7 separate regions of the Homo sapiens genome follow, and all the other regions are linked to region 5. Evidence: fine-mapped expression QTL. A gene starts in region 5. Each other region holds a variant in brackets. All regions are shown on one strand. Distances are between the middles of the regions. Region 1 has its middle 24 kb from the start of ANO10. Region 2 overlaps ANO10 (anoctamin 10). Region 3 has its middle 3.9 kb from the start of SNRK-AS1. Region 4 overlaps ANO10 (anoctamin 10). Region 5 holds the start of ANO10 (anoctamin 10). Region 6 has its middle 85 kb from the start of SNRK. Region 7 overlaps ANO10 (anoctamin 10).

Region 1 (4,411 bases), 24 kb before region 5:
CTGTTCATGTATTTAAACTTGTTTAATCCCTACATAAACCTATGAATTCTGAGCTATTGTTACCCCTTTACAAATGAAGTAACTGAAACCCAGAAAGGTTTAGTCTATCTATGTCACACTACTGTTAAGTGATTGCATCAGAATCCTAAACTCTGCAATCTGTCTCCTTCCAGAGCCCATGGGGATATGGCTGAAAAGTAATTAGAATTAGACAGTAAAAGGATTTGAATACTTCGAATACAGAGTAGTGTAATATGATGGTTAATTTTATGTCTTAACTTCACTGGGTTAAAGGATATCCAGAAAGCTGGTTAAACATTATTTCTGGGTGTGCCTGAGAGGATGTTTCCAGAAGAGATTAACATTTGAATCAGTAGTCTGAGTAGAGAGGAATTTGCTCTCACCAAGGTGTGTGGGCATCACCCAAGCCGTTGAGGGCCTAGAGAGAATAAAACTGTGGGAGGAGGGTGAATTCACTCTCTCTTCTGGAGCTGAGACAGCCATCTTCTGCCCTCGGACATCTAAGCCCCAGGTTCTCAAGCCTTCAGACTCTGGGGCTTATACCAGCGCTCCCCCAACTCCCCAACACACACCACTGGCTTTCCTAATTCTCCAACTTGCAGACAGCAGATCATGAGATTTCTCACCCTCCATAATCATGTGAATCAATTCCCATAATAAATCTCTTATCTATCTATTTATCTATGGGTATAGAATACACACACACACACACACACACACACACACACACACACATATATACACATATCTTTTTGGTTCTGGTTCTTTGAAGAATCCACACTAATACATCCAGTCTTCTGGACTGGACCCATAAATCAAAGGAATCATACTCCAATGGCAGACTTCCAGACCTTAACAGTTGGAAGGTCGAAGAGAATTTTCTTCTTTGGGAAGGGAGGGTGCTTTTCTTTCCCGCTTTTCACAACAAGCCAGTCTTTACCTTCCAGATGTTGTACCCCCACCTTCAGGGATGACTCCATAATACTTGAAAGGGACAGTTTGTGTGACCAGCACAAATTTCTCATTTTAGAACCGAACTAGAAGTAAACAGTCATATGAGTCTATGTAAAGAAAGAAGAGGCCAGGTGTGGTGGCTCACACCTGTAATCCCAGCATTTTGGGAGGCTGAGGCAGGCAGATCACCTGAGGTCAGGAGTTCAAGACCAGCTTGGCCAACATGGTGAAACCTTGTCTCTACTAAAATACAAAAATTAACTGGGCGTGGTGTGGTGGCAGGCACGTGTAATCCCAGCCACTCAGGAGGCTGAGGTGGAAGTTGCAGTGAGTCAGGATTGCACCACTGCACTCCAGCCTGGGCATCAGAGCAAGACTCCGTCTCAAAAACAAACAAACAAAAAGTAGAGACTACTGACTCAGCATGACCATAACCATGGCTCTGTCTTCTAAGGCTCCTTCCACCATAAATTTGTTATCTTAGTTCTCTAACTCAAAGACGAATTCACAATCTCAGCCACACATGCTGTTACAATGAGCATATACAAGGATCAGGACAGGTAGCAGGCAGAAGTGTGCCCTTGGTCTACTCTCCCTCCTCCTCATCATCCCTGCTCAAAATAGGGAAGTGGAAAGAGTCCCCTCTTAGAAGCATGGGAATTAGAACTCCTCGAATCTTTTGTTTTCACATTGTATCAGAGTAAAACAACTAAAATTTACATACTAAAACAAGCTAATCTATAACTTTGAACATGACTCTGCAGAAAAATAAGAAACTTCCCACAGACGTTTTCCACTAGTCAACTAAGCTACTTAAAACAGGTAGAGGCCAGGCGCAGTGGCTCATGCCTGTAATCCCAACACTTTGGGAGACTGAGGCGGGTGGATTGCCTGAGTTTAGGAGTTTGAGACCAGCCTGGGCAACATGGCAAAACCCCTTTTTACCAAAAATACAAAAAATTAGCCAGGTGTGGTGGTGCGTGCCTGCAGTCCCAGTTACTCGGGAGGCTGAGGTAGGAGGATCGCTTGAGCTTGGGAGGTGGAGGCTGCAGTGAGCCCAGATCGTGTCACTGCACTCCAACCTGGGTGACAGACCCCATCTCAAAAAAATAAAAATAAAAAACACCAGGCAGAGATACTTAAATAACTTTGC[C/T]AGAGCCTTTGAAAAGCTAAGTGCAGAGCTATCAGAGTAAATAAATGTGCCCAGGAAATAGCTCTAGGGGCTTGACTGGGAGTAATGGGAGCAGGGTTATTTTTTATTTTATTTTAAGCAAACATAGCACAGCCTGCACATGCACATGTCCGACTTCAAAGCAATCACTTCAGAAAGAATACTAGCTTGAAATATTTTAGAAATGTTTTTAGTGGAATTGTCTTCAGAGGCAGAGAATATTCTCTTTAATATCCCTAGGAGGAGTTCAACCTTAAATTTTTTTTTTTTTTTTTTGAGACGGAGTCTCACTCTGTCGCCAGGCTGGAGTGCAGTGGCACGATCTCAGCTCACTACAACCTCTGCCTCCTGAGTTCAAGCGAGTCTCCTGCCTCAGTCTCCTGAGTAGCTGGGATTACAGGCACCTACTACCATGCCTAGCTAATTTTTGTATTTTTAGTAGAGGTGGGGTTTCACCATGTTGGCCAGGATGGTCTCAATCTCTTGACCTTGTGCTCCGCCCACCTCAGCCTCCCAAAGTGCTGGGATTTCAACCTTAAATCTTTGAGATGCGTTTGCTTTCTGAAGCCAACCACAAATTAGACCAGAGCCTTGCATAGTGAATAAGGAGGATAATCAAGATAAATAATGAATAATCAAGTTGAATCACTGAAGATCTCTAAATGAGATGTGGCCTCCTTGACTGTTTATTGGCTTTGTAAATTTTTAAATTTAGGATTGGTGGAGTACAGCCATATTGCCTACCTTTTTGACAGATGGATTGGTATGTATTTGTGATGTCGTTGGTATCAGCCAGGTTCTGGCAGGACACAGGCTGCACACTCAATGAACAAGAAGGCATACCTGAAAAGGGTTCAAGAGGGCCTCTTTACAGAGGTGCAGACAGGTTGAGGAAGCAACTGAGGGCAGTGAAACACCCAGGGTGCCAGCACCAATGGGAAGGTGTTACCGCCCAGGCCTGAAGGGCAAGTGGGAGGAAGGGCCTATCAGAAGTCAGCAAGAGCTGCAACCAGAAGGGTGGCTGACCCATTGAAGAGGTGGTTATGGAGAGCACACTGCAGCACCTGCCAAAGGGAATCCAGTTTCTCTTATCTTGTGCTCAGATCTCCTGGCAGTGTGACAGTCCCCCATCAGAGTAAACCCAATCAAAAGCCAGGGGCAAGGCTACTGAGTGATGTCATCCACAGAGGTGAGCCTTGTGGAGGAGAGCAGGCCAGGTAGGCCAGATCTTGGATCTGGAGAGGCCAGTGGAGGACAGCACAGACACACTGTGCGTGCATTGTTCCTCTCTGTTCCAGGGAGGGAGGGAGCAGTTCTACTCTATGGCAGAGTAACCAAGTCTACTCCTTGATCTCATTTCTCACCCTCCCACCCCCATGTTTGCTTCTTTGTCTCTGTGTGCTGCATTACAGCAAGTTAAAGTCTAAAACTAAATCAAGTTATTTCCTGAGGAAAAACTGGGCTTTTAAATACATAGTGTTGGGACAAATAGAAAGCCACCTGAAAAAGGATGGAGTGAATCTAAACCTCACACTAAAATAAATCCCAAATGGACCAGAGATCCAAATATACAATGTGCAATCAAGGAGGTTTGGCACAGGTGAATTACTTTATAACCTGGGGACACGGAAAGCCTTTTCAACATTCAGCAAAAACAAACAAACAAACAAACAAACAAAAAAATCAGGGAAAGATTGGTGAACTTTACTACCTAAAACAAACAAAATACAAGAAGCAAGGTCAAAAAACAAATGACAGACCAGGAGAGACCAATTTCAAGTTATCTCAGCGGTGGCTCACGCATGTAATCCCAGCACTTTGGGAGATCAAGGCGGGCGGATCATGAGGTTAGGAGATTGAGACCATCCTGGCTAACACAGTGAAACCCCGTCTCTACTAAAAATACAAAAAAATTAGCTGGGCGTGGTGGCGGGTGCCTGTAGTCCGAGCTACTCAGGAGGCTGAGGCAGGAGAATGGTGTGAACCCAGGAGGCAGAGCTTGCAGTGAGCCGAGATTGCGCCACTGCACTCCAGCCTAGGCGACAGAGCGAGACTCCATCTAAAAAAAAAAAAAAAAAAAGAAAAGATGAGGACAAGTACATGAAAAGCTTTTAACAATGGATAAGCTCCAAAATTGCATAAAAATATGGGCAAAAGTCATGAAAAGAGAGAAATGTGAGAACAGAGCGAAAAGAAATGCAAGTCACTCCCTACACATATGAAATGACGCCCAATTTCCCTTACAATAAGAGAAATGCAAATTAG
Region 2 (4,411 bases), 200 kb after region 5:
AAGTGTATTTAAATTAATTTATGTTAATGGAAAAACCAAACTCTGTAAGATATTTAAAGAGGTTTATTCTAAGCCAATATGAGTGACCATAGTCCCAGGGAACAGTCTCGAGGTCCTGAGAAAGTGCCCAAGGCAGTCACGTTACAGTTTGGTTTCATTATGCATTTTAGGGAGACAGAAGTTACAGAGAAAGACATAAATAAATACATGTGAGGTATACATTGATGCGATGTGAAAGGTGTGGAGGCGGGGGAGGGATGGGCTTACAGGTCATAGGTGGATTCAAATTGGCAATTGGTTGAAAGAGTCAAGCTTTGTCTAAAGACCTGGAGGCAGTAGAAGGAAATGCCTGAGTTAAGATAAAGGGGTTTGTGGAAGCCAAGGTTCTTGTTGGGTAGATGGTAGCACCCTTCAGAGGGGATACATGGTAAATGTTTCTTCAGACCTTAAGAGGTATCAGACTCTTGGTTCATCTCTCCTAGATCCAGGAAAGGACTGGCTGTATTAATGGATATTCTCTACAGACGCAGATTTCCCCCACAAGAGATAGTATTGTGGAACCATTTCAAAATACGTCAAAGAAATATATTGTGGGGTAAAATATTTGATTTCCTTTGGGGTCTGCTATCTGTCATGTGATGCTGTACTGCAGCCAGGTTGCAATTTGTTATCTTACTGCCACAAAGGGTCTGTTTTGACAGTCTAATGATCTCTATTTTAATGTTAATGCTGGTGGTAGTCATTTGTACCTAAACTCCAAAAGGGAGAATGTATAATGAGGCCTGCCAACCTCCCTGTCATGGCTGAGAATTCAGCTTTCCAGGATTCTCTGAGGTCCCTTTGGCCCAGGGGAGGGGGTCCGTTCTGTTAGTTGAGCAGCTTAGGATTTTATTTTTGGTTTATATTTAAGTATTCAGTGTTAAATTAGGTTAAATATTAACCTAATTTAATAGGTTTTTTTCAACATTTCGTAAGAACTTCTGAACTTCTTCCCCCCGCTCCATTTGTGCTCTCAAGTTAAGGTAAATAGAGGCTGGGCACAGTGGCTCATGTCTGTAATCCTAGCACTTTAGGAGACCAAGGCAGACAGATAGCTTGAGACCAGCCTGGGCAACATGGCAAGACCTCATCTCTATTTAAAAAAAAAAAAAAAAAAAAAGTTACAGTAAATACATAAGCATTTTTAATGGAAACTGTAAAATTTTACAGCCTAGAATTAAGGTGCTAAAGTATTTGACTATTGAATAGGTAATCACATATTAATCTGCTAACATCTAGTTCAGAATGAAATGTTAAATCCAAATACAGAATTAGCCTCTAACAAAGCCAATAGCCACAGTCCTTAGGAAGGGGTGGTCTACTTCCTGGGGCCCCAAGTCAGGTCTAGGCCCAGTAAAAAGTACCAAAGTTTATGGTATATCTATCATTTGGGTGGCCTGTCTGAGCCTGCCTCTCCCTTTCTTCTTTCACTGGAAGGTTTGTCTTCCAGCCCTGTCACCACCCAAAGGGTTCATTTCGCCCGCTGCCCAGATAGAGCCAATTTATCAAGACAGGAGAATTGCACTAGAGAACTAGTTTAATTCATGCAGAGCAGGTTGAACATGAGAGCAGTTTTATTATTACTCAAATCAGTCTCCCCAAAAATTCAGACTAGAGTTTTTCAAGGATAGTTTGGTGGGTAGGGGGCCAGGGAATGGGGAGTACCGACTAATTGGATCAGAGGTGAAATCACAGTGAGTCAAAGCTGTCTTCTTCAGCTGAGTCAGTTCCTGGGTGAGGGCCACAGGACTGGTTGGTGAATCTGGTGGAGCCATCAGTCCTCAGAAATGCAAAAACTGGAAAAGAGATTTTAAAAGACCGATCTTAGATTCTACATGTTATCTGCAGGAGTAACTGGGGAAGTTGCAAGTCTTGTGGCTAATTTGTTAGTTTTATAAAGGTGGTCTGGCTCCCAGGCAAGAAAGGAGTTTGTTTCAGGAAAGGACTGTTAATCATCTTTGTTTCAAAGTTAAACTATAAACTAAGTTTCTTCCAAAGTTAGTTCGGCCTTTGCCTAGGAATGAGCAAGGGCAGCTAGCTTAGAGGTTGGAAGCAAGATGGAGTTGGTTAGATCAGATCCCTTTCAGTGTCATAACTTTCTCACTGCAACGATTTTTGCAAAGGAGGTTTCAGCCCTGTGTAGCTGCAGAGAAGTGACTTGACCTTCCTGTATTAGAGTCCCCCCAACACTCAAATGGGGCAAAGTCAGAATGAGGCTGGAATGAGGCAATGTGAGTAAGACCCATTATGGAGCAGTGTGTTGGGGGAATGAGGATGATGAGGGAGGAGGAGGACCAACTCATGCATT[C/T]GCTGGGTGAACCCAGCAAGGAATTCTAGGATAAAATGGTACCGTAACATCAGATTTGCCTGGAGAGTCAGAATTCTACCTTTGTGGCAATCCCACCTATTTTCATGACCTAACACAGCTGGGCTGTAATAACAATGAGGTAGTAACAGCTGACATGTAGTGTGTGAGAACATGAGCCAGGCACTGTTCTAAACCTTTTGCATGTGCCAGTGTCTCTTCAGAACAGCTCTCCACGGTAGGGTCTGTTAGCCATTTGCAGGTAATTTTTTGCACAGTAAATTTCTCTCCAATTGATAAAATGATAACCTCCTTTAAAGATGATTAATGCACAAATAAATACTGGCTCCTTTGCACCTTTTGGGTCTAGCAAGATTCCCAAGCACTCCTACTTTGTAACTCTGACCACCAGTATACCTGCCCTCTGCAGTCAGCTTCACAGACCCCACCTCCTGGAGAAAGCCTTCTTCCCATTGTGTAACAGGAGCCTGGTGCCCATTTCTGTTCATTTGCCCCACTATAGTTTGTTCTGTTTCAGTCTCCCTTGTGAGCTGCGAGGTCCCCGAGGGCCAGGTGATGACTCACTCACTGCTGAGTCCCCTCACCCAGCATAGGGCCTGGCGCCCAATAGACTCTGAATAAATATCCACTTAATCAAACTGAGTTTGTTGACTCACATGTAATTCACAAGCCAATATATTAAATAAATAAGGACAAATGATGTCCTTGGACAAAAAAAAGAGTCTTAAAATAGATACTCTGGCAGAAATGGAAACAGGTCATGTGCCTTTCTGGGATCACTGGGGAAGAGAATGCATTCTGAAGAATTGTATGTGGACACTTTAGAAGGACCACATACCTTGCCTTGATAAAGCTCAAATCCTTTTTTTTTTTTTTCCAAAAAAAATCTGACTGTGATTGACATCAGTAACAAGAGTAGCTCCCCAAGATTGTAAAATAACCCCAAATCACGCAAGAAAGAATTCTAAAATAGTTTGTACTTTGCACTTGTACTTGTTAGCTAGAAAACTAATTCAGGCTCTGGAGCAATCCTCCTTTTATCACTGATGGGTAGACTTTTTCCTCCTGTATTTTATGTTTTCACTAGAGAAAAATTTCTTTAAAGTGCACAGAGGCATCCAGACAGTAAAATAAAACTACAGCTCTTCTGATCGTTGTCTTCCTCAGTAAACAATGTATGTAAGTGACTACTTATCTCATTGGTTTGCTAAGCAAACTGTAAAATTTATATATCTTAATATTCCCCGTAGATGTGAGAAACATGGCCAAATCATAGGCAGATTTATTTTTTCTTATGAAAACTACTGAATAGGCTGTGAAATGGAATAAAATTTACCATTTTTCAAGTCACCCCATTGATAGATTGGAAGCAATGTGGTAAGAGGGGGCCTGGAGGCACAGGTCCATTCCACAGAGAAAGGCCTTGGGGCCACTATGCTGTAGAAGTGATGGCTGTGTGCTTGGGACCATTTTCACAGATGTCATTCAAATGTATTTGCATTGGTAAAGAAAAAACTTGCCTCATAATAAATTCTAGAGATATCAGAATGCTTAAAACTATATTTAAAAACAACAAAAAAGGGTGGGCGCGGTGGCTAACACCTGTAATCCCAGCACTTTGGGAGGCTGAGGCAGGCGGACCACAAGGTCAGGAGTTTGAGACCAGCCTGACCAACATGGTGAAACCCCGTCTCTACTGAAAATACAAAAATTAGCCGGGCATGGTGGCACGCACCTGTAATCCCAGCTACTCAGGAGGCTGAGGCAGGAGAGTCGCTTGAACCCGTGAGGCAGAGGTTGCAATGAGCTGAGATCTCACCACTGCACTCCAGCCTGGGCGACAGAGCGAGACTCCATCTCAAAAAACAACAATAGCAACAACAACAAAAAAGATGTATTCTTTTTTAAAGTTAGAGTTCCAATCTCATATTCTGTATTAGATTAATAATTGCATTGCCATGATGGTCAACATATGGGAGAGCAGCTCTTCTTTTGCAGGTAAATGCCTAGGATTGGCTTATGTATCCATTTATTTACTTTTTATTA
Region 3 (4,411 bases), 270 kb after region 5:
TAGACCTTTGTCAGATGCATAGTTTGCAAAAATTTTCTCCCATTCTGTAGGTTGTCTGTTTACTCTGTTGGCAGTTTCTTCTGCTGTGCAGAAGCTCATTAGTTTAATTAGATCCCATTTGTCCATTTTTGTTTTTGTTGCAATTGCTTTTGGCATTTTTGTCATGGAATCTTTGCCCATTCCTGTGTCCAGAATGGTATTGCCTATGTTGTCTTCCAGGTTTTTTATAGTTTTGGGTTTTACATTGAAGTCTCTTACCTGTCTTGAGTTGATTTTTGTATATGATGTAAGGAAGGGGTCCAGTTTCAGTTTGCATATCGCTAACCAGTTACCCCAGTACCATTTATTGAATAGGGGGTCCGTTCCCATTGTTTGTTTTTGTCAGCTTTGTCAAAGATCAGATGGTTGTAGGTGTGCAGACTTATTTCTCGGCTCTCTATTCTGTTCCATTGGTCTGTGTGTCTGTTTTCATACCAGTACCATGCTGTCTTGGTTACTGTGGCCTTGTAATATAGTTTGAAAGCAGGTAGCATGATGCCTCCAGCATTGTTCTTTTTGCTTAGAATTGCCTTGGCTATTCAGGCTCTTTTTTGGTTCCATGAGAATTTCAAAATAGTTTTTTCTAGTTCTGTTTAGAAGGTCATTGGTATTTTGATAGGAATAGCATTGAACCTGTAAATTGCATTGGACAGTATGGCCATTTTAATGATATTGATTCTTCCTATCTATGAGCATGAAATGTTTTTCCACTTGTTGGTGTTATCTCAGATTTCTTTGAGCAGTGTTTTGTTTGTTTGTTTGTTTGTTTGTTTCAGAAGGAGTCTCACTCTGTCGCCCAGGCTGGAGTGCAGTGGTGCAATCTCGGCTCACTGCAACCTCTGAGCAGTATTTTGTAGTTCTCATTGTAGAGATGGTTCACCTTCCTGGTCAGCTGTATTCCTAGATATTTTATTCTTTTTGTGGCAGTTGTGAATGGGATTGCCTTCCTGATTCAGCTCTTGGCTTGACTATTCTTGATGTATAGGAATGCTAGTGATTTTTGTACATCAATTTTGTTTCCTGAGACTGCCAAAGTTGTTTATCAGCTGAAGGAGCTTTTGGGCTGAGACTACGGGGTTTTCTAGATATAGAATCATGTGTCTGCAAACAGGATAGTTTGACTTCCTCTCTTCTTATTTGGATGCCCTTTATTTCTTTCTCTTGCCAGGACTTGCCCTGGCCAGGACCTCTAATACTATGTTGAATAGGAGTGGTGAGAGAGGACATCTTTGTCTTGTGCCAGTTTTCAAGGGAAATGCTCCAGCTTTTGTCCATTCAGTATGATGTGGCTATGGGTTGGTCACAGATGGCTCTTATTATTATTATCATTATTTTTTAGATAGAGTCTCATTCTGTTGCCCAGGCTGGAGTGCAATGGCACGATCTCCACTCACTGCAGCCTCTGCCTCCCAGGTTCAAGCAATTCTTCTGCCTCAGCCTCCCTCCCGGGTAGCTGGGACTACAGGCACGTGCCACCAAACCCAGCTAATTTTTGTATTTTTAGTAGAGACGGGGTTTCACCATGTTGGCCAGGCTGGTCTTGAACTCCTGACCTCATGATCCGCCAACCGTGGCCTCCCGAAGTTCTGGGATTACAGGCATGAGCCACCATGCCCGGCCAGATGACTCTGATTATTTTGAGGTATGTTCCTTCGATACCTAGTTTATTGAGAGAGTTGAACATGAAAGCATGTTGAATTTTGTTGAAAGCCTTTTCTGCATCTATTGAGATAATCATGTGGTCTCTGTCTTTATTTCTGCTTATGTGATGAGTCACATTTATTGAGTTGCATATGTTGAACCAACCTTGAATTCTGGGGATGAAGCCTACTTGATCATGGTGGATAAGCTTTTTGATGTGCTGCTGGATTTGGCTTGCCAGCATTTTGTTGAGGATTTTTGCATCAATGTTCATCAAGGATATTGGCCTGAAGTTTTCTTGAGTCTCTGCTAGTTTTTGTTATCAGGATGATGCTGGCCTCAAAGAATGAGCTAGGAAGGAGTCCTTCCTCCTCAATTTTTAAGAATAGTTTTAGTAAGAATGGTGCCAGCTCATCTTTGTACATCTGCTAGAATTTGGCTGTGAATCTGTCTGGTCCTGAGCTTTTTGGGGGTGGTAGGCTATTTATTACTGATTCAATTTCAGAGCTCATTATTGGTCTGTTCAGGGATTGTTTTTTCCTGGTTCAGTCTCAGGAGGGTGTATGTATGTATTGAGAAATTTATCCATTTCTTCTAGATTTTCTAGTTTGTGTGCATAGAGGTGTTCATAATATTCTCTGATGGTTATCTGCATTTCAGCGGGGTCAGTGGTAATATCCTCTTTGTTGTTTCTAATTATGTGTATTTGGATTGTCTCTCTTTTGCTCTTTATTAGTCTAGCTAGCAGTCTATTTTATTAATGTTTCCAAAGAAACAATGCCTGGATTCGATCTTTTGAATGGTTTTTC[G/A]TGTCTCAATCTCCTTCAGTTCAGCTCTGATTTTGGTTATTTCTTGTCTTCTGGTAGCTTTCTTAATTTCTGCCTAAATTTCATTATTATTTATCCAAAAGTCATTCAGGAGCAGGTTATTTAATTTCCATGTATAATCTTATGGTTTTGAACAATTTTCTTAGTCTTGATTTCTAATTTTATTGCACCATGGTCCAAGAGAGTCATTGGTATGTTTTCACTTCTTTTGCATTTGCTGACGATTGTTTTATGTCCAACTGTGTGATCAATTTTAGAGTATGTGCCATGTGGCAATGAATTTTAAAACAACAGCAGAGCATCAAACTTAGTGTGGGACTCTTCTAAGTGTGGTGCCCCCCAAATGAGTATAAAGGTCACATACACACATGAAGCCAGCTCTGCCAGCAGGACATTGACTCAGTCTTGTTTCCACCTTCATGCTGGTGTTCCCCTTAGTGACTGTTTCTACCAGTGGCCCCACCCTAACCCCCACTCTTTTCATCTTCTAATCCAGAAACCTTGGAGTCCTTGTAAAAGGATAAAGGAATCAAGAAGCAAAATGAATGCTGTCTCAGCAAAGTCCACTGCTACCTCCTGTGGCTCACACAGGGACCTCCAGATGATTGGAGCCCTGCTCACACTCTTCAGTTCTCCACTCTCTGCATTCTTCCTCCCTGCTTCGCCCTTCTTCGAATTCCCTGACCCTGATAGCGGTGCTGTGCAGACACATCACCACCTCTGATCCATCAACTTGTGCTAATTTAAATCACCATTTTCTTCTCCAAGGGCATTATGAACTGGCAAGAACCACGATTCATTTTTTTCTCTTCTGACGACTTGCCAATCTGTAACACCTTGCTCAGAGTGAGGTGTCCAGCAAGTGCTTAGTCCTGGATTCAGACGTCCTGAAAAATATGACTCTCTCCCTGGTAGTCACAATGTCCTTAGGCCCTAATAGCTCAAAAAGGGCTACATCCTATTTCCCCTTCTCATCTGTCTCTCCCCAGATCCCAGAAGTCTGAGAAACCTCGTCCCTGCTGAGCAGCTGTAGGGGGCAGAAGGGCCATGGATTGATAACCACCCGAAGTGTGACATCTCCTGTGTTTGGCCTGTTCAAGGACTAGCAAGGAGGTTATTGCAGCCAGAGCTGAATGAGCAAGTTGAGAGGAGCAGATGTGATAACTGGGGCAGAGGACACACTAGGGCCTTGTGGGCCACCACACAAGGATTAAACTTTTAAATCTGAGATGGAAAGCCATGGAAGGATTTTGAGCAGGGGAGTGACCCACTATTTAGACTGCTGTTTCTGGCCAGGATAGAATTAGAGGAATTTGATTGACCCTCTTGCCTTAAACAACTAGGAAACCAAACAAAATATATGGAGCAATAGTTTCCAGACATTGAGCAACAGACAGCATAGGGCTGTCACCCCGAGAGAAGGGAGGCAAATGAGGTGAGCCCTGAGTTGAATGCCCCAGCTCACTGCCCAAAGGCAGTTGCCAGAACACAGAGAGGGAAAGCCCAAATAGTCTGGTTGAGTTGAGCAGGTAGTTTGAAGTTCAAGATCAATGTGCAGGGCAGAGAGGAGGGAGCTGCACAGATAGTGAGCAAGCTCCAAAAGAAAATCTGTGGTCTTTGGTTGAGTACTGATCAGTACTTATGAGAAAACTACCTGAGGCTGGAGAAAGAACCACTGGAAAGCAGCAGGCTGAACAATGCTCAGAACTTACCCAAGGCTGGTAATAGTTCATGTTCCTACCAGCCAGAGTAGAAAAGCCTCAATAGAGTCCCTAGAGAGGTATTGCCTCAGTAGTGGGCCAAATTAGCCCTAGACTGAAGACTGCTCAGGATCTGCCCTAACAGTTTAAAAGTGAGACATGAAGGATCCAATGATTTTAAATAACTGCAGTCCAAAATGAAAT
Region 4 (4,411 bases), 180 kb after region 5:
AGGCACAGTGGGGCATTGGGAAGATGAGGGCAGGGGTAGGGGTATCACTTTATACCTTTTTTCCTAACCATGTGACTGTATTACCTTCAAACTATAGTTCAAAAAGATATAGGTATATACATTTTTTAATAATAAATTCAGAATAGCTAGGATAAATCGCTTTTGCTGTTGTTAAACCTTAAAAATTATTTTTATCTACCTATGAATATTCATCTTCCCTCGAGTGTTTTCGGTATGGCAAGTTCTGAGTTGTTAAAATTGATTGTTATTGTCACTTTGTAACTGAGAGGGTCTCCCTAGTGAAAACCTGACTTTCTCAAAGAAGTAGTTCAAATTTCTCCTTACTTTTCTGACAGTAGTGTGCCTCAAGCATATCTTAAGAACATAACAAGTAATAAACCATAAACCAGTATTTTCTTCAAGAAAATATATCAGCGGAGAACAGAAAATGTTATCTTTGAAAAAAATATGCAGTTATAAAAAGTTGTAACTCTTTTTTGTTACAAACTCTCTGTTCAATTGTATGAAGTTGCTCTCTCTCAGAGCAAAGACTTGCCAGTTGGCTTTACTTCTTTCATCCCCTTTCTTCTATATCCACTGCCTCTGTACATTTTTCCCACTTCCCTTGCTCTGACAAAGATATCAAAGGTTACATTAAAGCAAAACCTGAGAAGCTTGAGTTATTGCTGATAAGTTCAACAAGGAGTAAATTTAAATGCAATCTGAGAAGTAGAAGATGGGAAGCATTCCTTCCTGAATCCACATGCTCTGTTAGGCCCTAAGGCACAATAAAATGTGGGACATGAACCCTGGGCCCCGAAGCTGATGACAGTGGAGGTCACAAAGTGATCACCCACTCTAAGAATTCTACACACAGTGATATCTATACGTTTCTCTCTCCGCCAGGCTTCTTGTCTTTACTCTCATCAGTGTTTGGACAGCTCCTGACAGAACAAAGGCTGGGTTTGGTGTTCTGTAATCCCAGCTCTTTGGGAGGCTGTGGGAAGATTGCTTGAGCTCAGGAGTTCAAGACCAGCCTGGGCAACATGGCAAAACCCCGTCTCTACAAAAAATACAAATATTAGCTGGGTATGGTGGTGCACACCTGTAGTCCCAGCTACTCTGGAGGCTGAGGTGGGAAGATCACTTGAGCTCGGCAAGCAGAGGTTGTAGTGAGCTGAGATAGTGCCACTACACAGCCTGGGTGACAGAGTGAGACCCCGTCTCAAAAACAAAAAATACAAAAAAAAAATGCATTGCCTGTGTTGTAGGCAATGATATTTCTAATGTAAGGAAACATGGTCATAGATTTGGGAGATGTAGGTCATTTTCAGGATATTCACCCTTAACCTGAGAACTGGTTTAGCAGATTTTGCTGAGTTGTTTTTAGATGGTTTGTTTGGAATCCTAGTTTAATTATTCATTGTTTTACCTGTGATTTTGGGATAAATATATATGATAAAGTAAAAGTCTTTTTAAAATAAAGTTTTTAATTTTAAGATAGTTTTAGATTACAGAAAAGTTAACAAGCTAGAACTGATAGTTCCCATATACACCATAGCTAGTTTCCCCTACTTTTAACATCTAACACTGGTATGGTACACTTGTTATAATTAGTGAACAACTATTAATATTATTAACTAAAGTTCATGCTTTATTCAGATTTCCTTAGTTTTTATCTGATAAGACTCATCTTGTATATTTCCTGCTGCGGTCCTAGACTCAGCCATTTTTCCAAGGAGCTCTGGTTCCTTTGTTTTGGACAATGGTATTAGAAACCAAGATCTGTGTGCATCTCTTAACTTTTTTTTTTTTTTTTTTTTTT[G/TG]AGGCAAAGTCTCACTCTGTAGCCCAGGCTGGAGTGCAGTGGTGCAATCTCAGCTCACTGCAAGCTCCTCCTCCCGGGTTCATGCCATTTTCCTGCCTCAGCCCACGGAGTAGCTGGGACTATAGGCACCTGTCACCAGGCCTGGCTAATTTTTTGTATTTTTAGTAGAGACGGGGTTTCACCGTGTTAGCCAGGATGGTCTCGATCTCCTGACCTAGTGATCCGCCCGCCTTGGCCTCCCAGCATCTCTTAACTTTTAACCTGAATCCCTCTATTTAAGATGGATTTCTTGCAGTTAACATAGTTGAGCCTTGCTTTTTATTCTAACTCTGACATATATTTAGGCCACCTGGAGTGTCCTGCACCCTGCCGTCCTCGCCATGACTGTGTCAGGTGACCACAGGAGGTCGATTGTGTGTTCTCCTTGCACTGTTGTAGAGCCACCCACTTTCCTGTGGCCCCTGCGGTACCACATCTGCCTTATAGCTAACAGTTTAAGGTTTACAAGTGTGTATTTCTCTATTGTGACTTAAATTCTCACTTGATACAATTAAAGTAAATGAAGTAAGTATATAGTAGAATGAAATCATAATCTTAAGATATCACTTTGCTTTGTAGGCCTTAGTTAGAGAATATTTCTGGGCACACAGTTTTTATATGTTCCTTGGTTTTTTTACTTGTCAAGTGATCAAAATAATTGTTGAAAAAACAAAGCAAGCTCCAAATCACACATAACCCTCTTACAGATTTTATTTCCTTTCACCATCATCAGATCTGCTCTAGAAACTGCTTTGTGCATGAAATGTGGCTCTGAATGAGAGGAAAACAAACTTTAACACATGTAAATTGCTTTAAGCTGTATAAGATGTGTTCTTTGGTGACACAGGGCATGCCAAAGCCTTGAAAGCCAGCTTTCTCACCCTAGGGACAAATGACAACCCCATCATTCAGTGTCCCTCAACTACAACAAGCCTCTTGATTAGCAGGTCCCTACAATGGAGATTATATTTTAAGAGAGAAGAGCCAATGAGACACATGATTTAATTTGTCTGTAACCCTTTAGATTATTTTCTTGCATTAATTTGGTCTAATTGATATTTCCCCCAATCACCTTTTCTATTAAATGATGAAATAGAGAAGGATCCGGGTGCAGTGACTCATGCCTGTAATCCCAGCACTTTGGGAGGCCGAGGCAGGTGGATCACTTGAGGTCAGGAGTTCGAGACCCGCCTGGCCAACATGGTGAAACCCGTCTCTACTAAAAATACAAAAAAATTAGCCAGGCGTGGTGGTGCATGCCTGTAATCCCAGCTACTCAGGAGGCTGAGGCAGGAGAATCGTTGGAACCTGGAAGGTGGAGGTTGCAGTGAGCCGAGACTGTGCCATTGCACTCCAGCCTGGGCAACAAGAGTGAAACTCCGTCAAAAAAAAAAAAAAAAAAAAGAAGGAAGGAAGTAAAATACTTTTCATGCTTTCATACTGAGCAGTTCTCCCTCTCTCATTGTTTTGACTCTTCTAACATATTCCCTTTTTTCCCTGTATACTTCTTTTAGATTCCAGCTATTAATATTTATTGAGACTCAGAAACCAATACCCCCAAATACTGCACTTTGACATGCTGAACTGAAAAGGGAGCCTCAAGGTCTCCCTGATCTCCCCCATACTGTCTCTCCCAAAGCATTAGATTCTCTAAAGTTCCCTTGTCTGCCTAAAGTCCAGACCTACCAAAGAAGAAAACAATTAACTGCTGGTCACTTCCCTGAGTTCTCATTAACTGAATCCATATCACATCTTTTCTCCTGTTAATCTGCTTTTTGTGAGTTGTTTTTTCAGCAAAGCTTCAAGGGTTTGCTGTACATCTTTTAAGACCAACTCCTTGTTCACTCGACTGATCTTGGAAAGTCACCCATGCAGGCAGCCCAGAGGCCTAGGCCTTTTGTGATATTAGTGGTTCCCTGTCATTCCCTGTGTGGATCCTCAGCACACTAGGAATGGAGCTTGGTTGGAGTGGAGCAAGGTGAGCTGGGTCATAGACACAGCCCTGCCCTGAAGACGTCTTCTCAGGGTGACCACCAGGGCATAGGGCCTGAAGACACTGCCAGAGAATTCCTTTTAAACTCCAGAGAAGAGTCCTAGTCATTATGTTATTGAGGCACACATTTTGTGATGCTTTCTCATCTTTTAACAAATTCATATGAGTTAATTAACTGATTAAATAGAGTTTTCAGTCTTTCTATACAATCTATACCAAAGGATGGCAAACCCCAGCCAAAGGACCAAATCCTCCTGCCGCCTATTATTAAAGTTATATTGGCACCCAGCTGCACCCATTTGTTTATATATTCTGCTTTTCATGTTGCAAGGAATGGCAGAGTTGAGTAATTGTGACAGAGACTGTGTGGCTAAAATATTTATTCCGTGGCCTTTTAAGAAGTTTGCTGACCCTGTTGGAGATTAAGAATCTTTTGTGTTAGAAACTGCATTGAATCTATAGATCACTTTGGGTGATATACACGTTTTAACAATATTAAGTGTTCTAATACAGCACATGAACACAGAATGTCTTTTCATTTATTTGTGTCTTAT
Region 5 (4,411 bases):
TGAAATGTGGCTAAGGGGGACTACTATATAGGGATCTATGTCATTAACTCAGGTTTGCCATTTATGCTGTCCAACAATTTGCTATACTTAACAGAAAGTTTTAATTTGTTAATTGTGGAGATGAAATAAGATTATACAAGAGAAAATGACTTTTATATTTCCATTCATTTTTCTTCCTAATTCCTCCAGCCACATAAATATAAGAAAATGAAATTATATGGAGGATGGCCGTGCGTTCTAGGATGAGAAGATAAGAAGAGTACAATTTAAAAACAAAAGTCTAAGGAGTAATTCATGTCTAAACTTATTGAAGTTCATAAATAATTTGTCCTGATTTTCAGAAGAAAGAGAGAACTTCTGAACATAACCACACAGGACCTACAAAAAGATAGCTGCACAAAAACTGGTTAATAATGTTGTGAGCTGCCATGATAGCATCGGAGGACTAGAAAGAATGACAAACTGCTCCTACCAAGTAACGAGTCTTCTGCTCCTTTCTTTTAGTTTCCCTGCCTCCTGCCTGGAACCTGGAAGACCCAGAGAAGGGTGGGGAGTAAAGAACAGACCAGCCTTCTCCGCACTGCAGTTTGTTGAGGCATTGATCTGGCCAAAGCTGGATGTATGGAGGCAGAAAGTGTTCATTCATTTTTTAAATTTTTCATTTCAGAATTATTGCTTGTCTGCTATGGACCTAACACTGTTCTAAACATTGGGGCTGGTAATCCTCCATTATCTGTGGGAGATACATTCCAAGATCCACAGTGGATGCTTGAAACTGAGGATAGTATAAAACTCTATGTATACTATGTTTTTTCCTACACATACATACATACTATGATAAAGTTTCATTTATAAATTAGGTACAGTAAGGGATTAACAACAATGAATAATAATAAAATAGAACAATTATAAAAATAGACTGTAATAAAAGGTGAATATGGTCTCTCTCTCTCTCTCCAAATATCTTATTGTTCTGGCCTCACCTATTTTCAGACTGTGGTAGACCCTGGGTAACTAAAAACACTTAAAGCCGGCAGGGCGCGGTGGCTCACGCCTGTAATCCCAGCACTTTGGGAAACCGAGGCAGGCGGATCACCTGAGGTCAGGAGTTCTAGACCAGCCTGGCCAACATAGTGAAACCCTGTCTCTACAAAAAATACAAAAATTAGCTGGGCATGATGGTGCGCGCCTGTAATCCCAGCTACTCAGGAGGCTGAGGCAGGAGAATCGCTTGAACCCGGGAGGCGGAGGTTGCAGTGAGCCGAGACTGCGCCACTGCACTCCAGCCTGGGTGACATTGCGAGGCTCTATCTCAAAACAACAACAACAAAAAGTCAAAAAGTGTGGTGGACAGAAGAAATAGGAGAGCAGGTAAGGAAATGGTGGGGTGAGGAGCAGATGAGAACAGGTATTAAGTAGGATGGTCAGAAAGGGCCTCAGGGAGAAAGTGAGAGCCCAGCAAACACTGAGGGAGGTGAGGAAGTGAGCCAAGCAGCCAACCGAGGGAAGAGCTTTCTGGGCAGAAGGAATGGCTGGGGCAGACTCTGAGCCTGGAGGTGGAAAGGTGTCTGGCGATTTCTAGGAGGAGCAAGGGTTTTGGGATTTGGCTGTGGTTGGATGTTAGGTTTTAATTATAAAAGGATCTGCGTTTTTCACAACTTGAAAGTGAGCTACAGTTAAAATGAGACTTGTTCTTATACCTGAAAGTGACCAGAAAATTAGGTTCTGGTCTTTAAGAGATGGAAGAGGGAAATGTGAAGGGGCGTATTCCTTTCCCCTGCCCCGACCGCTCGCGGTTGGAGAGCCCAGCCACATGCCGCCCCGGCTCGGAGTGACAGCCCAACCAGGCCTCTGCCTTCTCGGCCGCGCCTCTCCCGCTGCCGTCCGGATTTCGATGGGTGGTACAGTACGTTAGGCACGCCCCTCCCTTTCTCCCGGCCTGGTCTCCTGTTCCAGGCGACAGCCCAATGAGGGCTGCCTTTTTTTCTTCGGACCGGTTCCAGTCTAGGTTCTCGTCCACTACGATCGCCCAGTGAGGCCCCGCCCCTCCCACCGCAGTTCCGCCCCTCCCGGAGCTACCGCCCAGTGAGGCCCCGCCTCTCCCGCCGCGGCCCCGCCCCCCTGCGTGTGACCGCATCTAGGCCCCGCCGCGTCCGCCACGCCCAGCGCTCGGCGGCGCCCGCCCCACTGGCCTGGCCCGCCCCCCGCACCGAGCACTCTTTCGCCCGGCCTCCGGTTCTCGCCGGCTCTCGGACCCGCCTCCGAAGACGTGGAGCGCTGCGGCGGCTGGTGAGTCGGGGAGGGCACCTCGGACCCCCCAGCTGTCCGCAGCAGAGCCCGGCCCCTTGCAGCCACAGAGCCCCGGCCGCTGCAGGCTCCAGGAGCTCCGCCTGGTCGCCGCCCTGCGTTCCCGGGCCGCCTCCCGGTGCCAGCACCCCTGGGGATGGGAAGTGGGACCAGGATGGGCGCGGGGGCTGTGGGGGCAGGGACGAGTGAAGGTGTTGCGGGGAGCGGCGGTCGCAGGGGAGGGGAGAGGTTTGTGGAGGGGATTATGGGTCTGGGGCGAGGGTTTGAGTCCTGAGAGAAAGGCGGTGAGGCGGAAATTTGGGGCTGGTGAAGTCAGGATGGAGGATGTTGGGGGCCTCAGCGCTTTGGGGAAGGAGGCAGTGAGTGGGGTGGTCGGCGGAGCGGAGTGAAGGGTGGTTTTTAGAAGGGTCAGCTCGCGGGTCCCGGGGTTCTTGCTTCCCGGGCAGTCCGGGGATCAGGGCGGACTAGGCTGTCTCCAAGCAGGTTTGGCCGGAGCGGGCTTGCAGGATAATGCTCACATCGAGGTGACTGAGTTTCCAGGCTTTTGACTGGGACATACTGTACAGTTTAAATAATAGATACCTGTCTGGCTAGTGCCTGGGACACCTGAGAAACGTGGATGGAATGGGGTTCTCCCCTATAGGCAGCGTCTGATTTTGTGGGTGCCTTCACAGCACCAGCATTGGTGTGCGCTGCCTTCTGTAAAACCTTATATTCCAGCAGGACGGTGTATGGAGATCCCAGACTTAAAAAGTGCAGCTGAGGTTTATTCAGACTCAAGACACAGTTGTATCATATTGCCTTAAATCCTGCGGAGTTTAAATCTAATCCTGTGGGGTTTAAAGCGGTTAAATCCACTTTGTAGTGTCTACTTTTAATTTAAAGTCATACAAATCTAGAGGACTAGATGTTTTCTAAGGGCCCATTCTGCATGATAAACAGTTTAAAATTCGCTATGGAAAGTAAATCATCTGTTCTGAACAGCTGTTGCTGAAAGAATCGTAGAGTTGCAGATGAATGAAATTTGAAAGATCTAAAATAATGGAAGGGCATAGAAAAGTCTTGATAAATTGAAGTGTGTAAATGCACTTAAACCCACTGAAACTTTTTTCTTTTTGTTTTTTTTGAGACGGAGTCTTGCTCTGTCGCTCAGGCTGGAGTGCAGTGGCACAATGTCTGCTCACTGCAACCTCCGCCTCTCGGGTTCAAGCGATTCTCCCGAGTAGCTGGGATTATAGGCGCCTGCCACCATGCCCGGCTAATTTTTGTGTTTTTAGTAGAGATGGGGTTCCACCATGTTGGCCAGGCTGGTCTTGAACTCCTGACCTCAGGTAATCCTCCCACCTCGGCCTCCCAAAGTGCTGGGATTACAGACGTGAGCCACTGTGCTGGCCAACTTTTTTCATTGTAGACAACTTGGAAGACAGAGAAAATTATAAGGATGAAAATTAAAATCTGTAGTTTTGCCACATGTAATAACATTTTGATGCATTTCTTCCTAATTTTTGTATTTTTGTGTATATGAATGTACACAAAATTAGGGTAGTATTGTTACCTAATTGGGGTAATATTGTTATATTACTTCATACTTTTGCTTTTTCTTTCCACCTTACATTTTCTCACTTAGCATTTTTGTGGATCAAATTCTTCTTAAACATCTTTGAAAATGCTTGTATAATCATTCATCATGTGGATTCATTCTTTTTTTAAATATTAGAGTTTTAGTTATGTGCCTAGTACTGTGCTTGGAGGTGAAAAATCAGTGTTCCTCAAATGGATATATTTGTCATGGCTTGCATGAGAGCTGTACTAAGCCTTTTTCTCATCTGTCAGTTAAATTGTCTCTAGCCTTCTGTTTTTATAAGCAGTAAACCTTTGTTTTAATGGTTAAAAGCTCACAATAAATCTCATGTCATGTGTGAATCCAAAACTGTTATTTTTAATGTGTATGAGTTTTTGTGTGTATGTGTTAGGAAATTACGGAATTTTGGGTGGAAGAGGATTTTTTTTTTTTTTTTTTTTGGACAAGGTCTCACTCTGTTGCCCAAACTGCAGTGCGTGCAGTGGTGCAGTCACAGCTCACTGCAGCCTTGACCTCTGGGGT
Region 6 (4,411 bases), 420 kb after region 5:
TACATGCATTTAAAACTGGCATTGCATAATATAAACTAATGGTAGAATTCATGCAAATAATTTATTTATACTAAGAACAACATTACATAACAGATTTTTAAAAATGTCATGACATCAGAGAGAGATCACAGAAGAAAGACAAAAGCTTTACATTTTAGTGCTTTTAACAACACTTTCCCCCCCTTTTTTGAGCAAGGGTCCTACTTTTTTATTTTGTACTGGGCCTTGCCAATTATGTAGCAAGCCCTGCTCGCAGGCTAACTCCCTTCATGCCACTTCTCTTGAGCCTCTTGTTCAGCCTTGTTTCTCTTACAGCTTGGGCAGGGTCTGGGAGGCAGAAAGAGAATTGTTGAGGTATTTTTCAGCTGGGGTTTGACTTCCAAGGGGAAGTCAGGACTCTTTCCCCAAATAGTTTTTTGAGGCCTCATGGTGACCTGTGAACCGTACCACCCCTAGCTGAGAAAATGACAGTAGTACTCACTCTTCAGCAACCAAAATCTCTAGTTCAGTGTTTGCCGGATGTCAGGCCTGAAAGGAAATTTCAGCCAGAGGAGGAAAGGAGGAATGATAGCGAAGACCCACATTTTGCGAGGGGTCACTGCCAGCCAGAACTCAGACCTGAGGACCAGCTTGGTGCCTTGTTTAGAATGGCAAGAGTGGAGCAGGGTTGTCATTTCTCTTCCTGGGATCAAAATCAGACAAATCTCCTATTTGGCTTACCAGGCAATAAGTGGATAACGCCAGTGAATGTCAGTGCAAATTACAGCTCTGGCCTCCTGTCGTCAGCTTTGTGCTGCTTCTTGTCACTTTAATGCAAAGAGACAGCATGGAGCTGATAACAAACCAGAAGGGTGGGGGATCGGAGGGGGTAGCTGTGTCAGGGACAAGAAATACATGTCAGAGAGAATGATTCAAGACAGTAAAAACCCACACTGATGCTTTTTCTTGTTTGCCTGTTTAAGGGGTTGGGTGCAGACAATACCTCTTGAATATCCAAAACTAAGCAGCTACCTCATCTATTCATCCACCCAAGCATCCACCCACCCACCCATCCTCCTCTGTAAATGAGGGCTGGACTGAGCCTCTTGGTACACTGGAATTCTTTTTTTTTTTTTTTTTTTTTTTTTCCAGACAGAATCTTGCTCTGTCGCCCAGGCTGGAGTGCAGTGGCATGATCTTGGCTCACTACAACCTCCACCTCCTGAGTTCAAGCAATTCTTGCACCTCAGCTTCCCAAGTAGCTGGGATTACAGGCATGTGCCACCACACCTGGCCAATTTTTGTATTTTTTAGTAGAGATAGGGTTTCACCGTGTTGCCCAGGCAGGTCTCAAACTCCTGCCTCAAGTGATCCAACCACCTCAGCCTCCCAAAGTGCTGGGATTACAGGCATGACCCACCATGCCCGGCTTGTACACTGGAATTCTGAGGGACTCCTGCATCCACCATCTGTTGAGCACAGCCACTTTGCCACTGTTGAATTTAAGTAGAGGTTTGAAAAACTCTTAGGAGGAAACATTTCTCTTCCTAGCAAAAAACAAGAGCTTTGGGGAATTTTCGTCAAAATCAGCCCAATGACTGCTCAAAAGCTTTGGTTTTACTCTATTAAATTACATTTTTCTTAAACTGCTGGGCGAATGTTACTGTCTCAGAGACCCCCTCAACTGACAGATAAGATCTCCCTTCTAGCCACCTGAAGAAAGAGCGAGTCTTGCATTTTACATGCCAAGATTTGAGTGTGTCCATCTGTCTTGGAGCCTGCAAGGGTCAGCTTACAAAAATATGCAGCCTCACTCTATCTTCCACCCACGTTACAAGTTTGAGGAACGGGT[A/T]CAGTCAAGGCAACAAGAATCCAGGTCTTTCTATAGTTGTGCTTGCTAGCAAATTAGTGTCTGAGAATTTGGAAACAGTACCAAGAGGATAACTATAAGGAGACATACCTTATATATCTTCTTAGGTTCCCTCTATGGCTTCGTACCCTCTTCTGGATAGTGCCCATTCACTCCCGGATGCCCTCCACTTTTGGACTGGGTGAAACACCTCACCATGGGGCATGGGATCTGGTTTCTTGGGCAGTCATCAGGGACTGGATAATGCAAGGTTAGTAACTATTCAGGAAGTGGACATTGACCTAGGAGATAGAAGACAGATGGGCGCAGGGCAGATAACTTCCCCCATCCTACTCTGTCTTGTGGGTGCCTCTGCATCATTAATCCTTCCTGCAGCCTTTTCAGAGAACTCTTTATACTAAGTAAACATGCAACCTGGTGTCCCATCCAAGCTTATGGTGGGTGAAATAGGTCATCACAGTAGTGCATTGCATTACTTCTCATGACTTCTCTTCCCTCATTTTCTGCCCCCTCATCTCCATTGCTCTGGGCTTGCAACTTCTAAGCAAATTAGAACCTCAATCCTTGCTCAGTTTCTGCTTTCTGAAGGACCTAGACCAAGGCAGGAAATAATATTTGTTCAGCACCTGCCAAGTGCCCACAGGTGCTTGTGATATATTCAAACTGATTATGGAACTTGGAAAGCTCATTCAGAAGAGCAAGAAACATGTCCCCAGGGCACCTAGGAAATCAGCAGCAGAATGGGAGTAGAATTGTTAAAACAGGACTGAAACATGGCTGATGAGAAAAAGAAGGAAAAGAGGGAGGAGCAGAATGGAGATTGGGTGTCATCAGGTCTTTGGGTGCCAAATGAACAAAGAGGGCTTTTGTATTGAGACTTTCAGGTTAAATCCCAGGCATCCAAGTTGGTGACCAAGTTAGGAAAGATTTCTGTTTTGGGGATTCAGCTTATACAACACTTTTGTGTTTTCTTTGTGGCAGAAGTTTTTAAAGAATGAGGAAGGGTAAGCTTTCAGTACCGGTATATTAGTTATCTATTATTGCCTGACAAATTATTCCACAACTCAGTGGTTTAAAATAACAATAATCAGCTGGGCGTGGTGGCTCATGCCTATAATCTCAGCACTTTGGGAGGCCAAGGCGAGCAGATCACTTGAGGCCAGGAGTTCAAAAGCAGCCTGGCCAACATGGTGAAACCCCATCTCTACCAAAAATACAAAAATTAGCCAGGTGTTGTGGTGCGTGCCTGTAATCCCAGCTACTTGGGAGGTTGAGGCACAAGAATCGTTTGAACCCAGGAGGCGGAGGTTGCAGCGAGCCGAGATTGCACCACTGCACTCCAGCCTGGGTGACAACGTGAGACTGTCTCTAAAAAATAAAAATAAATAAATAAATAAAAGAACAGTAATCAATTATTGTCTCTCAAAGTGTCTGTGGGTCAGGAATTCAGGGGTGGTGTGGCTGGGAGGTTGTGGCTATGGTCTCTCATGCGGTTAAAGTCAAATGTTTGCTGAGATTACAGCCAATTGAAGGCTGACTGAAGCAAGAGGATCCATTTCCAAGATAGTTCACTATTAGCACGAGACCTTAATTACTTTCTTCAAGAGCCTCTCCCTGTGGTGGCTTGAGTGTTCTCATGACGTAGTGGCTGGCATCCCCTAGAGCAAACAATCCAAAAGACCAAAGCAGAAGCTGCCGTGCCCTTTATGGCTTACCTTCAGAAGCCACTCACCGTTCTCTTCACCATACTCTATCGGTCACACAGAAAGCCCAAGTTCAATTCAGGAAGAGTATGGCCACCAGGAGGTAAGTGAGGATCCTGCCCGGAGGAGCAGCATTTTTGGAGACTGGACCACAACCAGCATCCTGGAACATGAGAGCTGGGAGAGTTCTTAGAGGTAATCTGTTTCAATATTCTTATTTAGTAGCTGAAAAACCCAAAGATCAGAGAGGTTAAACAACTTGCTCCAGGTCGCTTAGTGAATCATCTGTTCACACTTAATTCAGGATTCAACAGTGCCTGCAGGAAGCCCATTTTATGAGGCCATATGAGAGCTGGACCTCATGGTCAAACAGCATCACTATGCTGATGAAGAAGGAAGGAAGAAGTCAGGCGTGATGCATTAAACAAGAGTTGCCAAATGAATACACTGCAAAGCTGATTATAGAAGTCCATTCATATATTCAAGATATATTTATGGAGTGCTTACTTCATATTTGGCATTGGCTGGGCACTGGTACAGAGGTAGGCAAAAACATGCTCTTGCTCTCTTAGACCTTGTGGTGTAGTGGGGAAAACAGACATGAGTTGCATAGTTCCACAGATAATGGAAGTACTATGACTATGACAAGTGCTTTGAAGAGGAGGCTGAAGACTGTGACAGCCCAGAATATTAGGTTTGTTCCAGCCAGCGAGGCTTCTCCAAGGAAGTGATGATTCAATTATCACTTGACAGCCTGAAAATGAGTTCTAGTATCAATGAGATAATGATTTTTGTTCAAGTTTTGTTTTTTTTAAGATATTATATTCTCCACCTCCAAAAGTTCCATTTGAGTTTTCTT
Region 7 (4,411 bases), 57 kb after region 5:
ATGTCCTCCCGTAGCTCAGAGTAATTTGATCGTCTGAAGCCTTCTTCTCTCAGCTCGTCAAAGTTATTCTCCATCCAGCTTTGTTCCGTTGCTGAGGAACTGCGTTCCTTTGGAGGAGGAGAGGCGCTCTGCTTTTTAGAGTTTCCAGTTTTTCTGTTCAGGTTTTTCCCCATCTTTGTGGTTTTATCTACTTTTGGTCTTTGATGATGGTGATGTACAGATGGGTTTTTGGTGTGGATGTCCTTTCTGTTTGTTAGTTTTCCTTCTAACAGACAGGACCCTCAGCTTCAGGTCTGTTGGAATACCCTGCCGTGTGAGGTGTCAGTGTACCCCTGCTGGGGGGTGCCTCCCAGTTAGGCTGCTCGGGGGTCAGGGGTCAGGGACCCACTTGAAGAGGCAGTCTGCCCATTCTCATATCTCCAGCTGCGTGCTGGGAGAACCACTGCTCTCTTCCAAGCTGTCAGACAGGGATATTTAAGTCTGCAGAGGTTACTGCTGTCTTTTTGTTTGTCTGTGCCCTGCCCCCAGAGGTGGAGCCTACAGAGGCAGGCAGGCCTCCTTCAGCTGTGGTGGGCTCCACCCAGTTCGAGCTTCCCAGCTGCTTTGTTTACCTAATCAAGCCTGGGCAATGGCGGGCGCCCCTCCCCCAGCCTCGCTGCCGCCTTGCAGTTTGATCTCAGACTGCTGTGCTAGCAATCAGCGAGACTCCGTGGGCGTAGGACCCTCCGAGCCAGGTGCAGGATATAATCTCGTGGTGCGCCATTTTTTAAGCCCGTCGGAAAAGCGCAGTATTCTGGTGGGAGTGACCCGATTTTCCAGGTGCCGTCCGTCACCCCTTTCTTTGACTCAGAAAGGGAACTCCCTGACCCCTTGCGCTTCCCAAGGGAGGCAATGCCTTGCCCTGCTTCGGCTCGCACACGGTGCGCGCACCCACTGACCTGCGTCCACTGTCTGGCACTCCCTAGTGAGATGAACCCGGTACCTCAGATGTAAATGCAGAAATCACCCGTCTTCTGCGTCGCTCAGGCTGGGAGCTGTAGACTGGAGCTGTTCCTATTCGGCCCTCTTGGCTCCTCCCCGCTCCCATTACATTTTTAAATGCTGCATTACAGTTGTAGTAAAGTACTCTAAAGCAGTGCTTAACACTTATCTTTTTTTTTTTTTTTTTTGGCAGTTCAACTTCCTCAATTGCTTTGCCTCACTCTTCTATATTGCCTTTGTCTTGAAAGATATGAAGCTTTTGCGCCAGGTAAGTAAAAATAACAGAAAAATACCAATTTTTTAGGTCATAGAGGTGGTTTTCTATCTTTAGATGCTGTAATTGCCTTCAAATTATTTTTACAAATAAAATCTTTTAAATTTTGTATGTTTTTAAGCCAAATTCTAAATAAAAAATTATTAGGAATGGCATTGTGTATTATGCTCAACTGAAATGAGTTGAACCTAACCAACCTGAAAAATTAAGTATAGGGCAGTAAAATCAATTATATAGTTCACCTCAAAGCTTGTAAGCAACTCTAACAGCAAAAATATAGTATTCATTAACTGAACTGTTTTGTGTGCCTTGGATGGGGATGATTGGTGTAACCTTAGGTCTCGCAAATTTAATTTTTAAGTTAATAAGTTGTTAAACTTTAGAGACCAGTGGATCCTATGCAGTGCTGTATCTTTTCTAAAGTGTCTGACATTTATTTTGGTGTGTTGTCATTTCTGGATCACATAATACCAATGAATAATAAATTAAGAACAAATTATTGATTTCTAAATTCTCCTTTTTATATTTGAACCAGTTATAAGTAAATGGCTGTTTTTTCCCAGTTTTAATATTCTGAGATTGTTGGTGAGCAGTCTCAAAGGCTAGACTCCACTTGTTAAAAATTATTTTTCAAAATAGAGAAAGTTTAAAGTAGTACATTTGGAATTGATGAGTTGGATGTACATGTAACAGTGGTCCCATGTAATAGTGTATTAGTTGGATGTGACTTCTCATTTCTTCTGCTTTAGAGAGTCTCCTTTACTTAGCAGAAGATAGGGGAATGGAGGAGGACCGCTTAAAAAAACAGTTGTAATACCAGCAAAGGTGGGGTGTGATGGAAACATTCATATCTATCTGAGAAAAGTGGAGATTGATACATCTCTGGAAACCAGCTCTCTTGATAGCTTTGCCAAGAAACTTAACTCATCCCTAGTAAATCTTCAGAGAGGAGCAAAGATTCATGTACATAGATATCCAAGCACCAGCATTATAATAGCCAAAATTGGGAGTAATAGTTAATTCAACAGCAGTGTACAGGCCAAGTAAAAAAGAATTTTTAATGATACGGGAAAATGCTCAAACATATTAAGTGAGAAAAGCAGTAAACAAAGTGTATCCATATAGGATAATTATAGTTTTATTTTTATATATGATTGGAAAGAAATATCCCAAGAAGTAGCAGTGGTTTTGTCATGGTTGTGTAATTATGGGTGGCTCTTTTTTTCTATTTTTTTTTTAATAATACATACATAGTTGTACATTTTTATGGGGTACATATGCTGTTTTGTTACATTCATAAAATGTGTAATGAAGGCCGGGCATAATGGCTCATACCTGTAATCCCAGCACTTTAGGAGGCTGAGGCAGGCAGATTGCTTGAGCCCAGGAGTTCAAGACCAACCTGGGCAACGTGGCAAAATCCTGTCTCTACCAAATATACAAAAAGTTACCTGGGTGTGGTAGCACTTGCCTGTAGTCTCAGCTACCTGGGAGACTGAGGTGGGAGGAT[T/C]GTCTGAGCCTGGGAGCTCCAGGCTGCAGTGAACTGTGATCACGCCACTGCACTGCAAAGTGAGACCGTGTCTCAAAAAAAAAAATGTGTAATGATCAATCAAGGTATTTAGAGTATCTATCATCTCGAGTATTTATCATTTCTATATGTTGGGAGCATACAATACATTATTGTTAACCATAATCACCCTACTCTGCTCTCATATGTTAGAACTTATTTCTTCTCTCTAATTGTATGTTTGTACCTCTCGATCAGCTTCTCTTTATCCTCCTCTCCCCAACACACACCCACCCAGCCTCTGGTAACCGTCGTCCCACTCTATCTCTATGAGATCAACTTTTTTAGCTCCCAAGTGTGAGTGGGAGCCTGTGATATTTGTCTTTCTGTGCCCGGCTTATTTCACTTAACATAATGACCTCCAGTTCCATCCGTGTTGCTGCAATTGACAGAATTTCAGTCTTTTTTATGGCCAACTAGTATTCCATTGTGTATATATACCACATTTTCCTTATCTATTCATCTGTTGATAGACACTGAGGTTGATTCTGTTTCTTTATTGTTACAAATAGTGCTGCAGTAAACATGGGGGTGCAGGTGTCCGTTTGATATGCTCATTTCTTTTCCTTTGGATAAATACCCAGTAGTCAGAATGCTGGATTCTATGGTTGTTCTATTTTCAGGTTTTTTTTTAGATGTCTCAAAAAAAAAAAAAAAAAAACCTCTCGCCATACTCTTTTATATAATGTCTGTATCAATTTCCATTTCTACCAACAACAGTGTATAAGAGTTCCCTTTGTTGCACGTTCTTGTCAGCATCTGGATTTTTTGGGTCTTTTTAATAATAGCAATTCTATTTGGAGTAGGATGATATCTCATTGTGGCTTTGATTTGCATGTCCCTGATGATGAGTGGTGTTGAGTATTTTTTCATATACCTGTGGCTATGTAAATGTCTTCTTTAGAGAAATGTCTATTCATGTCTTTTGCCTACTTTAATGGGATTATTTGTATTTTTGGTATTGTTTGAGTTCCTTGTATATTCTGGTATTCTAGGTATTAGTTCCTTGTCAGATGAGTAGTCTGCAGATCTTTTCTCCCATTCAACAGATTGTCTCTTCACTGTGTTGTTTCCTTTGCTGTGCAGAAACTTTTTTCTTTAATATAGTCACAGTTGTCTATTTTTGGTTTTGTTGCCTGTGCTTTTTAGGTCCTAGCCATAAAATGGTGGGAACTTTGCTTAGACCAATGTCCTGTAGTATTTCCCCTATGTTTTCTTCTAGTAGTTTTATAGTTTTGGGTCTTATGTTTAGATCTTTAATCCATTTTGAGTTGACTTTTGTTTGTGGTGATAGAGAGGGGTCTAGTTTCATTCTTCTGCATATAGATACCTGGTTTTCCCAGCACCATTTATTGAAGAGGGTGTTTTTTCTCCAATATACATTCTTCTTTTTTTTTTTTAGATGGAGTCTCACTCTGTTGCCCAGGCTGGAGTGCAGTGGCACAGCCTTGGCTCACTGCAGCCTCTACCTCCTAGGTTCAAGCGTTTCTTGTACCTCAGCCTCCCAAGTAGCTGGGATTACAGATGTGCGCCACCACGCCTGGCTAATTTTTGTATTTTTAGTAGAGGTGGGGTTTCACCATGTTGGC

Evidence for each region.
Region 1: its variant is fine-mapped to the expression of ANO10 in whole blood (INTERVAL, PIP above 0.99).
Region 2: its variant is fine-mapped to the expression of ANO10 in whole blood (TOPMed, PIP 0.99).
Region 3: its variant is fine-mapped to the expression of ANO10 in whole blood (INTERVAL, PIP above 0.99).
Region 4: its variant is fine-mapped to the expression of ANO10 in whole blood (INTERVAL, PIP above 0.99).
Region 6: its variant is fine-mapped to the expression of ANO10 in whole blood (INTERVAL, PIP 0.98).
Region 7: its variant is fine-mapped to the expression of ANO10 in whole blood (TOPMed, PIP above 0.99).

What each region holds. Positions count from the first base shown.
Region 1 is chr3:43,643,499-43,647,909 of GRCh38, reverse strand. It overlaps a transcript of ANO10 not described here. Among named protein-coding and RNA genes, the nearest start is that of ANO10, 24 kb to the right of the region's middle. The variant C/T (reference allele first, on the strand shown) is at 2,129.
Region 2 is chr3:43,421,949-43,426,359 of GRCh38, reverse strand. The region is part of intron 12 of ANO10 (anoctamin 10); the gene reads left to right. Among named protein-coding and RNA genes, the nearest start is that of SNRK-AS1, 72 kb to the right of the region's middle. The variant C/T (reference allele first, on the strand shown) is at 2,348.
Region 3 is chr3:43,353,649-43,358,059 of GRCh38, reverse strand. No RefSeq gene overlaps it. Among named protein-coding and RNA genes, the nearest start is that of SNRK-AS1, 3.9 kb to the right of the region's middle. The variant G/A (reference allele first, on the strand shown) is at 2,490.
Region 4 is chr3:43,442,537-43,446,947 of GRCh38, reverse strand. The region is part of intron 11 of ANO10 (anoctamin 10); the gene reads left to right. Among named protein-coding and RNA genes, the nearest start is that of SNRK-AS1, 93 kb to the right of the region's middle. The variant G/TG (reference allele first, on the strand shown) is at 1,826.
Region 5 is chr3:43,619,787-43,624,197 of GRCh38, reverse strand. ANO10 (anoctamin 10) reads left to right here and starts at 2,187. Exons shown (of 13, transcript NM_018075.5): 1 at 2,187-2,289. RefSeq lists enhancers at 613-1,265, 1,266-1,918 and a silencer at 1,974-2,473.
Region 6 is chr3:43,199,632-43,204,042 of GRCh38, reverse strand. No RefSeq gene overlaps it. Among named protein-coding and RNA genes, the nearest start is that of SNRK, 85 kb to the left of the region's middle. The variant A/T (reference allele first, on the strand shown) is at 1,832.
Region 7 is chr3:43,562,491-43,566,901 of GRCh38, reverse strand. ANO10 (anoctamin 10) reads left to right here. Exons shown (of 13, transcript NM_018075.5): 8 at 1,175-1,249. Among named protein-coding and RNA genes, the nearest start is that of ANO10, 57 kb to the left of the region's middle. RefSeq lists an enhancer at 644-1,366. The variant T/C (reference allele first, on the strand shown) is at 2,766.